Homo sapiens: one gene and its partners. The protein of the gene in region 3 interacts with the protein of the main gene of each other region in a pairwise test. Each region holds a gene or a part of one and is shown on either strand. Other genes may lie near its edges.

Region 1 (3,751 bases), on a different chromosome or scaffold from region 3:
CCGCCCTCCCGCTGAATGACAGCTGGCCTTAGTTGCTGTGTTCCCGGGGCACTGCTCAGGGTGGGTGCACCACAAAGATCTGGGGAGGGTGGGGCATCCGATCATTCCCAGCTCCCGGGGAGAGATGAGGGTGTGGCGGAGGTCACCTGGCTGAACAGTGACAGAGCTGGGCCCAAACCTGGGCACCACGTCATTGGCACCACTGCCCGTGGGCACATGTGCCCACCTGCCGGCTGCAGGCAGGCCTGACACAACTGGGCTCTTCCCTGGCACTGCCTGGCACAGGCACTGGGGACCCTCCGCGGACCCGGCAGCTCAGCACTCCCCTGGGCCAGCCTTATCTTGCCCTGCAGAGCCCAGGCTGGAGTGAGGCGCAATGGACGGAGGCGAGGAGGGTGCAGCCGAGCCCTATCAGATACGGCCGGAAATATGACCCCGCTGGGACCTGAGCCCTGAGCCGAGCCATCAGCTCACTAATAAATTACCCAGAGCGAATGTCCACAGGGTCAGCCCGCATCGCCTTTCCAGGGAGCACAGAGAGGGGGCGGCACCCAAGGTCTGTGGGCTGACCGTTCCCTCCCCTCTGTCAATGAGAAGGGTCAGGAAGGAGTTGTCCCGGAGCCCCCCGACCTCGGGCAGTGCAGCCTGACCTCTGAAATCTGGGAGGAGCAGCTCCAGCCCTGGGAAGCCAAGGATAAGCGCCCAGATTGGGCACAGGCGGGAGAGGGTCTTGTCTGGCTACAGGACCTCACTCTTCCCAGGAAGCCAGACTGCCAGCAGGACCACCCAGCCTTCCTCAGTGCTCTCCCTGGAACAAGCGTCAGCGAGCCAAGGCCCTCCTGCCAATCTGGCCCACCCCGTTTGTGTAGACACAGAGCGCACTGTGTGCCATATGGCCCTGTAAGAGAAAAGTTTGCTCCCCCATGCCCTGTACTGAAGACGGCAGTGAGGGGAGGGCCGGTCTGCTGAACCCCATCCCAGTGGCTGCGTTGCTCATGCTCTGACGGTGGGTTCCAGGACTCTGTGTCCATGCAGCCCCACGGCTGGCCCTGAGCAGTCACCCTCTGTGCACACTGTCCCCCAGCCTGGCACACCCTGGGCTCCCAGGGGTCCTGTAGCTTTACCCAAGGGAGATGCACCCCCATTCCTAATGGAGAAACACGGGTCTCTCCACACCTCCTCCAGCAGTCCCCTGAAACAGGTCAAAGCCCCACAAACCAGGCAGGGGTCTGCCCACATGTGGTGGTGCCCTGCGCCAGTGATGCCCTCACCAGCCTCTTTCAGACCTGCCTTTACATGCACCAGCAGACGGGGGGGCTGGCGAGGACGGGCCACCAAGCCTGAGCCAGGCTACCACCTCCGGGCTGTGTGACTCTGGACAGGGTGCCTCAACTCTCTGAGCTGCACTTTCACCTACAAATGAGGGGCAGACTCAGCAGCGCCAGGCAGGGCAGTTGGACGCCCACCCAGGACAGACCCTGAGAAAGGCTGATCCCTCACCCCTGCCATCGCTCACTGACCCATACATTGCCCCTTCCTGCCAGGGCAATATCGAGGGTCGGCCAGTGTGCCCCAAAACGGCAGCTTGGGACCCATTCTTTGCCTCTCCCTCTGGCAACCCCAGGTCAGGACTCACAGGGGCACAGGGGCCTGGGGCAGGGCGGGCACTCTCGCCACCACGGAGGCCCCATGCTGGGTCAGGGTCTTATTGGAGGCTGGACTCTGTGATCACCTCACCTCCCGCAGCCCCACAGTGCCCTCCCTCTCCCACTCTGCCCCGAATTCCAATCCATAGGTTTTTCCAAGAGCTGCACAGCTCTGGAATTGACCTGGGAGGGGGCACATTTGGGCCGGGAGGGGTAGGAACAGCAGCAAACTCTGGTCTTATCTGAAATCATGGTCTGTTGTCCACCGGGGGCCTGGGAAACAGCCACCCCCTTCTGCTCCGGGGCCAGCGGCCTGTCCTCGGGTTCACTGCTATTTCTGCCAAAGGGGAGAGGTAATTATAGCCTGGCCGCTGCCAGCTGGCCCAGCTTTGCGATCCAGCAGAGAGGGCTGGAGACGGGACGAAGGCCACAACAGACCCGGCCCTGCCAGCGGGCGGTGGCGCCTCCAGATCAGAGCCCTCGGGAAGGAGGCCTGGGCGGGCCTGGCCCGTTCACCTGTGTGCCCTGCAGTTCTGCCCGAGGCTCAACTCTCAAGGGCCTGGGAGGGGTGCTGCCGGCCAAGAGGGTCCAGGACCTCACTGGACTGTGCCCCACAGGGAGATCCCGAAGAGCCTGTTTCTGTCCCTCGGGGAGCCAGGAGGGAACCAGGTGAGTTCCAGCCCCAGGGAGAGGGGGCTCACTTCCTGCTTGGGTATGAAGATGCCAGAGCGGAGAGATTGCCAAAGGCAGGTGCAGGTGGGGAACCTGCCCCAGCTGGGCAGCAGGTGTGGGCAGAGACTGGGCAGAGCGGAGAGATTGCCAAAGGCAGGTGCAGGTGGGGAACCTGCCCCAGCTGGGCAGCAGGTGTGGGCAGAGACTGGGCAGAGCACACACTGATGATCCTGAGTGACCTGAACAAGCTCCAGAGTGGCCACCCTTCCCCCTTCTCCTGGGACTGATGGTTTCCCTAAAACGGAGACAGTCCCAGGCCGGCCCTGTGTCCACACTGAGGCCAGGCCGCCTCTGGGGGAAGCAGGGAACACGGCCACTTCAAACTTAGCAGCGGGGGTGCTCCTGGCCACACAGGAGCTTCCAAAGGGCACCTGATGTTGCGCGAAACAGCCTGGGCAGTGGGAGAAGGGGCTGCACTCTCAGGGGAATGCAGGCAGCCGTGCCAGGCATGAACCCAGCCAGCCTTCCCTGAAGGGCCTTGGTGGGGGGCATCCTCCGAGGGCAAGTCTACGCAGGCCCAGCCTAGCAGGAATGGATTCGTTACTCCAGTAACTGAAGCCTAGTTCTCAGTGTTTGGGAATCCCTGAGAACTGGCTCTTTTCTGAGCCGTCAGTCAGAAGGAATCCCTGTCCTGCCCTGTGTGGCCATGGGACCCCCACCCAGCACTGGACGCCACGCCATTTCTTGGGCACTACTGAGCTTTGCAGTGCCCTGGACAGTTGGCAAACAGCCCCCATTCCACATATGGGAGGAAGGGCCTGGGGGGGTCCCCCGCCCTGTCTGTCTGGAGCTCTCGAGGCCTAGGGTGGCCCCTGCACCCAGCAGATGAGCAGCCATCACCCGGTACTGCTGCTACCTCGAGCCCTAACTGCACCTCGGGATGTGAGGGCCCATCTAGGCATGGAGAGGGGCCTCAGGGGGCCACCAGGCAGCTCCTGCTCCTGTTCCTACCTGGTAGGGCCTGCAGGCACCTGAGCAAGCCCAGTGGGCGGTCAGCCCAGCCAGGGGCCTCCCCACAAGTTCTCCCTCTTACTTAAGTCGAGAACGCATGTTGTCTGGGGAGCTGCCAGCGTGGTTCCAGTGGTGAGCGTTGGGCTGGGAGCCAAGGCTTTTCCCAGGAGCCCAGCCACCCCGCCTGGCTGTGTTCTGCCTCCGCCCTGCAGAGGAAAGGCCAGCGAGGCAGTGTCCATGGTCCCAGTCTTCTTCCACCGGAAGAAGGCACAACCTGCATCTGCAGCCCCAGGGCCATTGGGTTAGGCCTGTGGCCAAACTACTAAGGTGCTGGGAGACTGAGGAGGCCCAGCTCCTCCTGGGGCCACCAAGCCCGTGGTTGACGGCCTCCCCATGGACCGGGCTGTCCCGAGAGCAGCAAG
Region 2 (3,751 bases), on a different chromosome or scaffold from region 3:
GGGCGAGGGTGGGATGATACATTTTTTAATGGTGAATTGTTTGAGTGCTTTTAAATACAGTAGTTAAATGAACAATTCATAAAATGGATAAGGTATGATATGTTTTATGACACCTTTTAACATTCATGAAATAAATGCTTTGTATACATTGAATTTTAACAAACTAAATGAGCAGCCCGTGCCCACCTTCTGCTCTAGGATCAGCAGAGAGCATACGAAAGTCTTCAGGGGAAACCTCCTCACATTTAAGATTAGATTCTCCATTCTCTTCTGATTACTGATTATATTTTTTTTCCAATTTTGTGTCCATCTGGCCTCCAGATACCTATTTGCTTTAATCTTAGAAAAGCATTATTCTCCTTACATCCCACTTAGCAAATTATGGTAATGCTTAATTTATGTACAAAACTTTTATGTATTGTTTGGTTAATATTAAACCTAGGCTAAAAGACCACAAATTAAAATTTTAATACCCAATAAACATATGTTGAATTAAAAAGAAGTAAAAGAGCAGTAAAGTTAATGGAGTCTCATAGAGAAGAATTGTAATATCAATATTTTTACCAAGTACACACACACACACACACACACACACACACACACACACACAAAGAATGAGGAAAGAATTCATTATAGACATATGAATTCTGATGGAAGGGGCCCTGTGGGAGATTGATTCTTATTACGATATCCTGGTTGGAAGGGAATGAAGTGGGGTTATTGCTAGTGCAGTCAATGACTTGGCTTTTCTCTGGTGAATTGATTTCAGTAGGTGACTTTATTTCTTTGCATTAGGCAGCTGGAAATGTGTATTGATTTATTTCTTTTTCATTTGAGAATCAGCTTTATCAAAGATGGAGCCATAGAAATGCTGTATTTGCTGGATATGAGCAAATGCCTTAGTGCCTTTTTTTTTTTTTTTTTGCTCTGAATGTTCCTAAGATTTTTAGGAGCCAAATAAAGTTCAGCTCAATGAAATAGAAAACACACTTTGAGTGTGCATATATGCATAGTACTATTCTTTCTGCTAACTCGATTGTTAAGACCTGAAGCTCTTTTATAAAAATCTTTTTTTTTTTTTTTTTTTTTAATAAGGGATACAAAGCCCTGCAGGCCTTTTGCTCCAAGAATGTGTGTGATTGAAGAGCATGTTTTAAAAGTTAAATTCTCATTTGTGCAGTGACGGTGTTAGCGGTGGAGGGTGTTCAGGTTCTTGGCATTTTGAACAAAGAATTAGACAAAATGCACAAAGCAAGGAAGGAATGAAGCAATGAAAGTAGCGATTTATTAAAAATGAAAGTACACTCCACAGGGTGGGAGTTGGTCCTACCATAGGGGCTCAAGAGCCCGGTTACAGAATTTTCTAGGGCTTAAATACCTGCTACAGGTTTCCCATTGGCCACTTGTTGTACACCCCATGCAAATGAAGTAGTGGCCCACAATCTAGGCCGGTTGTGGTGCCTCACGCCTGTAATCCCAGCACTTTAGGAGGCTGAGGTGGGCAGATCACGAGGTCAGGAGTTCAAGACCAGTCTGGCCAACATGGTGAAACCCCGTCTCTACTAAAAATACAAAAATTAACCGAGTGTGGTGGTGCGTGCCTGTAATCCCAGCCGCTCGCGATGATGAGGCAGCAGAATTGCTTGAATCCGGGAGGCGGAGGTTGCAGTGAGCTGAGATCTATCGCACCACTGCACTCTAGCCTGGGGGACACAGCAAGACTCCATCTGGAGGCGGGGTTGGGGGCGTGGCGGAGGGGAGGGGAAGTTACACTTCTGTGCAAAGGAAGACTTGGCTGGCAGTCAGTCAGATTGGTTGGGGAAAGCAACCAATCAGAGGCTGAAATGAAGTTATAAAGTTATACTCCTATGTAAACGTCTGATTGGTTGCGGAAAGCAACCAATCAGAGGTACTTTCAGTTTTCCATTTGCCACTCAGAAAAGTGAGGGAGGGGTTTTCAAAGCGAGTAACCTCCAGTTATTTTGTTAGTTAGGTGTGTAAAGTTGGGCTTTTCTGTTTGATTTAGTTCTAGGAAGTCAGTATGAATCGGCCTTAGGTTCCCTGCCTCCAGACCCTATTGTCTTGCCTCAACAGTGCAATGGCTCTTTGCTAAGACTGTGTTCTTCTTAAGATTTTAATTTTGTTTTAAATGTTGTTTGTCCTGCTCCAAAATTAGTTTTTTAATTATGGAATTATTTTTTGTTTTGTTATTACAGGCAGTGTTAGTTCTATGGTTTTTGGCTTGATTGTTTCTTAGAAATTATGTAACCAACTCTTTCATATCATAGATGAGAAATTGAGGGATAAAGAAATCGATTTGTCATAAATTTAATTGAAATATTATTAGAAGAATAGTTTTTACTTATAGTACTTGAAATTCTCTGTTAATATTAAGACTTAGATAATTTTGAATATCATGATGTTAAAATTATAAATGACACCTCTAATATTGAGATCTTTAAGATAAAACAGACATAAGATACATGACAAATAGATGGTAAAGGTGAAGAAATATACAAAAGGTCAAAAATTCTTATAGTTTATATTCTTAACATTTGTTCTAAATTTTAAAAATTACTAAAATTACAAGACATATTTCTTAAAATAAAAAAATTACTCTAGGTTTATTATGAGACAACAATTTATAGCTGTCATTTATCTTAACAGGTTGAAGAAATATGGAGATCAACACAAAACTGCTCATCAGTGTTACCTGTATCAGCTTTTTCACCTTTCAGCTTCTTTTCTACTTTGTAAGTTACTGGTTTTCAGCAAAAGTTTCTCCAGGTTTCAATAGTCTCAGCTTCAAAAAGAAGATTGAATGGAACTCAAGGTAAAGCATATGAAAATGTAATTGATGACAAGAAACTAGTTTATGAGATAAAATTATTTAAAATATTTCAAAAAAGTATTTCATTTAGGATCTAATGTAAGGCCAAATTTTTATTTGATCTTAGAAATAAAAGGAAAAACAAGTAGATGATCTCATGCAAAAAAAAGTTTAAGAATTCATATATTGAAAGATGTTAGGAGAAATTTACTTAAGTTTCTGAGGAAGTGTGTGAAGATGAAGTAGACTCCAGCTGACTGTGGATGAATACTAGTACTTTCGTGTTCTTCTTTGAAATATTTATAACAAACATATTCTTTGGAAACAAAGATGGAAGAAAAAATTAGTTGTACTTTTGAGTAGCTTATACCATACAGCATTGGCCAACTTAGCCAGACCTGGGGCAGTTAGACTCTACACATCAGGGAACAAAGTGTACAGTCAGTGCATATGAATCTTTTAATGAACTTTGCATTATAATTTAGAGCCCTCCAGCATTTATTATTTTGTTATATAATTTTAAAGTAAAAATTTCTTTTTAGTTTTTTTTTTTTAAACAGAAAAGTAAATGGAGAAAGAATTAGACATCTATTGATATAGAAATCTGCTGGAGTTTTATTTTTTATTTTTATTTTATTTGTTTATTTATTTTTTTGAGACAGAGTCCCGTTCTGTCGCCCAGGCTGGAGTGCAGTGGTGAAATCTTGGCTCGCTGCAACCTCTGCCTCCCAGGTTCCAGTGATTCTCCTGCCTCAGCTTCCTGAGTAGCTGGGATTACAGGCATGCGCCACCATGCCAAGCTAATTTTTGTGTTTTTAGTAGAGACAGGGTTTCACTAGGTTGGCCAGGCTGGTCTTGAACTCCTGACCTCAGGTGATCCACCCACCTTGCCCTCCCAAAGTGCTGGGATTACAGGCATGA
Region 3 (3,751 bases):
ACCTTCTTCTTCAATTGCTGGAATTGTAATTTCGGCACATTGGCTTGATAACTGTATGCTCCTAATTTCAGTTCCACATTGACATCTACAGGTCTTGACATTAGTAGGATCCCTGAAATCCCACTGATTCTTAGAGGAAATAGCTTAATGTTGGGGAGATAGCACTGATTACTAAGGGTAATTTTCCCTTTTCATATGTTTGTTGCATGACCCTGGGCAAATTACTCCCTTTGTTGTTTTTTATTCCTCTTTGTGAAACTGGGGTAATAATATCTCAAAGGATTATTGCGGGAATTAAACGAGCTAACACATATAAAAGCACCTTGTTTAGAGACTGCTAGCACATGATAGGTGTGTTGTTGCAGGATACCGTTTGCCTACACATATGCATAAACATGCGCATGTCTCCCTACCTCTTGCCTCATCCACTTTTTCCACGCTTCCTCAATAGGTTGCCCAAGAAAAGAATTACATCAGTGCTGAGAGGAAAATATTTGTGCAGTGTGAATAACCAGAAAGCAGAAGAAAGCAAACTCTGGTGTCAAAACCGACAAATGATCTCTCTCTCTCAAAGATAATAGGGAACTAATTTTGTATGAACATTGCCATAACCAGAATGTATTTCTGCTTTCCACTGTGACTAAGCTGTCAGGACATTTCATAGAATTGTCACATAGGAGAATCGTAGAGTAGGCTAAATCACCCATTCTATGAATACAGAGATCCTCCAATGCCCTTCTTTCTATTTCATTTCATTTACACTTTGTTTAAGACTCATGTCCTGCTGGTGGGATGTTTTTATCTACCATATGTTCATATATTTTCCATCACTGGTATACCAATAATTGTTTTTTGTTTAAAAACAATTTAAATTAATCTCTTACCACAAAAAAAAAATGTTGTTCATATATATACTTCTTTAAGTTTCCTGGCCTCCATTCGATAATCTAGCCTTTCTATCAAACAAGCAACAAGTCACTCATACAGAAATCCTTTATCTTTGTGTATTATCCCACTTATTACCAATTCCTCACTGATGAAATGTCTATATCTATAGAAAAGAGAAATTCTATTTTCTGCCATCAGACATAATTAATTTAAACACTAATAATTGGTCACTGAATAATTTTCATGAAAAAAGGTTTAGGGTGCATTCAATTTATCTTCAGTGACATCTGAAGCCTTTAAAAGTATATCCATAAAAATATACACATCACGAGGCTCTCAAATTTTCTCCCCTTATATCTTTTTGTTTTGTTTTTATTTTTATTTTTTTTCAGAGATGGAGTCTTGCTCTGCCACCCAGGCTGGAGTGCATTGGCATGATCTTGGCTCACTGCAACCTCCACCTCCCAGGTTCAAGTGATTCTCCTGCCTCAGCCTCCCAAGTACCTGGAACTACAGGCGTGCACCACCATGCCCGGCTAATTTTTGTATTTTTAGTAGAGACAGAGTTTCACCACGTTAGCCAAGCTGGCCTCGAACTCCTGACCTCAGTCAATCCACCCGCCTCGGCCTCCCAAAGTGCTGGGATTACAGGTGTGAGCCACCATGCCTAGCCTCCCCTTATATCTTTTCAAACGGGAGAGCTAAAGGCACACATTAGAAAAAACATATATATACCTTTCTCTGAAACAACAGCTATCCTGGTATTGCTTTGAGAGTCGAAGTGTAATTGAGTATATCCATCTTCATCCAAATTTTCTAAATCAGGATGATATTCCATTGTTCTTGAGAGCCCCTGAATAGATATAGCATTTGGGAGCTCTTTTCTTTCTGCTCCTGAGATGACTGTCTGTGGACAAAAGAGAATCTCTGAGTCAAATCATGTGGGCTAGGTACTTACCGGAGTTTAACAAATTAAGCTTAAGTAGTTCAACCAGATATTCAAGAGCAGGAAATGAAACTATGCTGTGGTAATTTTCCATTTGTACCTTTAGATCCTGTTTCTGAGACTGCTGACTCAGGAAAACTAAAAGGCAGCATAGCAGATGAGTCTTTGTTTCAGACCAAATGTAAGAAAAATGCATACATTAATGTCTTATGCTGCCTTCATTACTCTCACAACTAAGTCTGACATTAATTAATTTAACCGATGCAAACTATTTCAGTTTTGGTGCTCCAAGTTTACCATAACTTTGTTCATGTATTTATTCATGTATTTTTTAAATTACATAAACAGGTACTGGATGCCCACCTTTTCAATTGGTAGGAGCTTACAATACAAGGAAAAATGATACCTATGAAGAAACTCATTGCTTAATAAAGGAAATATATAGATAGGTAAATGAGGGATGGCATGAGGAGATGCATTGTTGTAACAACAGACAGAGAAAACAAATCTCTTTGGGAATTATCAGATATTAACACAAAATAACATTTATTGAACAATTACTATGAGCTAAGTACCACATGTTGTACATATTTTCTTGTTCAATCTCACTTTTCCAAGTCTATATAGTAGGCATTATTATTTCTATTTTCAAATGAAAAAATGAGACAGAAAATTTAGCCTCTTTCTCAGGTTTAAGAAGCTAATTTTAAAAATTTAGAGCAAGGAATCAAATCAAAGCTGACTCTTGCTGCAAAACTCGTGGTCTTTTCTGTTACGCTACACTGCCTCTTTCATCATTCCATACACTTATATTGCAAGGAACAGCTTATGGAAGGTGTTGGGACTGAAATATTATGTTAGATGTTTGATTTTTTTTCCCTCTCTTCCAGTTTCCATAGTAATGATCAAATCAAAGAAATATAGAAAACACCTAACATTGCTGGAAACTGAAGAGGTGTTCAACTCATTTATCCGACCTTGAAGCCAGTAGAGTGCAGGAGACATCTGAGTGTTGTCAAGGATCAACAAATCTGGATACTAGTTAATGTGGTGAGGACAGGTTTTATTCAGTAATACTATTGCAACAGGAACCAGTGCAGCATTAACTGAACTCAACTTCCCCAAAAGTAAAGCTGATGACATTTTAAAGTGGAGTTTGCTAAGGAAAAGATACTGAGTGGTGTTAAGGAAAGTTAATGTGACTAGACTCTCTGGATTTGTTAATTGGCCCTTATCCAGAGGACAGAGAAACTTTGCCTATCTATATGACAGAAGGACATGGTGATAGTTGAAGTGAAGCACCCAGCTAAGTTGGTCCTTATGCTGCATCTGAAAGAAAGAGCAAGATTTATCTCCCTGAATGTTTGCATTTCAAAGAAACAGCTCCCAAGTCCTTGAAGAAACAGTTCTGTGTGGTAGATTTGCTTCTCAAAGGGCAGAGAAAGAATTTAACTGTAAGATTTATTTTTCTTTTCTTTCTTTTTTTTTTTTTAGACGAAATTTCGCTCTTGTTGCCCAGGCTGGTGTGCAAATGGCACGATCTCGGCTCACCACAACCTCCGCCTCCCGGGTTCAAGCGATTCTCCTGCCTCAGCCTCCTGAGTAAGCTGGGATTACAGGCATGTGCCACCACGCCAGGCTAATTTTGTATTTTTAGTAGAGACAGCATTTCTCCATGTTGGTCAGGCTGGTCTTGAACCCCTGACCTCTGGTGATCCGCCTGCCTCGGCCTCCCAAAGTGCTGGGATTACAGGCGTGAGCCACTGCACCTGGCCTAACTGTAAGATTTCTAAAGTAACTGCTCTAAAAGGAATTCAGGAGCCTATCTGTTACCAAGTTTTTTGTTGTTGTTGTTGTTTTGAGACAGAGTCTCGCTCTGTTGCCCACGCTGGAGTGCAGTGGCGCGATTTCGGCTCA

What was found.
Region 1: the proteins of CLEC7A (region 3) and C14orf180 interact in binary tests that used the Homo sapiens proteins (3 or more experiments, as listed by UniProt).
Region 2: the proteins of CLEC7A (region 3) and TLCD4 interact in binary tests that used the Homo sapiens proteins (3 or more experiments, as listed by UniProt).

What each region holds. Positions count from the first base shown.
Region 1 is NC_000014.9:104,577,689-104,581,439, forward strand, and holds the start of C14orf180 (nutritionally-regulated adipose and cardiac enriched protein homolog), read left to right. Parts: upstream 1-2,075; 5' UTR 2,076-2,315; intron 2,316-3,571; exon of another isoform or gene 3,572-3,751.
Region 2 is NC_000001.11:95,141,224-95,144,974, forward strand, and holds part of TLCD4 (TLC domain-containing protein 4), read left to right. Parts: intron 1-2,667; 5' UTR 2,668-2,678; coding exon 2,679-2,833; intron 2,834-3,751. Other genes in the region: TLCD4-RWDD3 (TMEM56-RWDD3 protein), read left to right, coding at 2,679-2,833.
Region 3 is NC_000012.12:10,128,357-10,132,107, forward strand, and holds the start of CLEC7A (C-type lectin domain family 7 member A), read right to left. Parts: upstream 1,844-3,751; 5' UTR 1,727-1,843; coding exon 1,624-1,726; intron 1-1,623.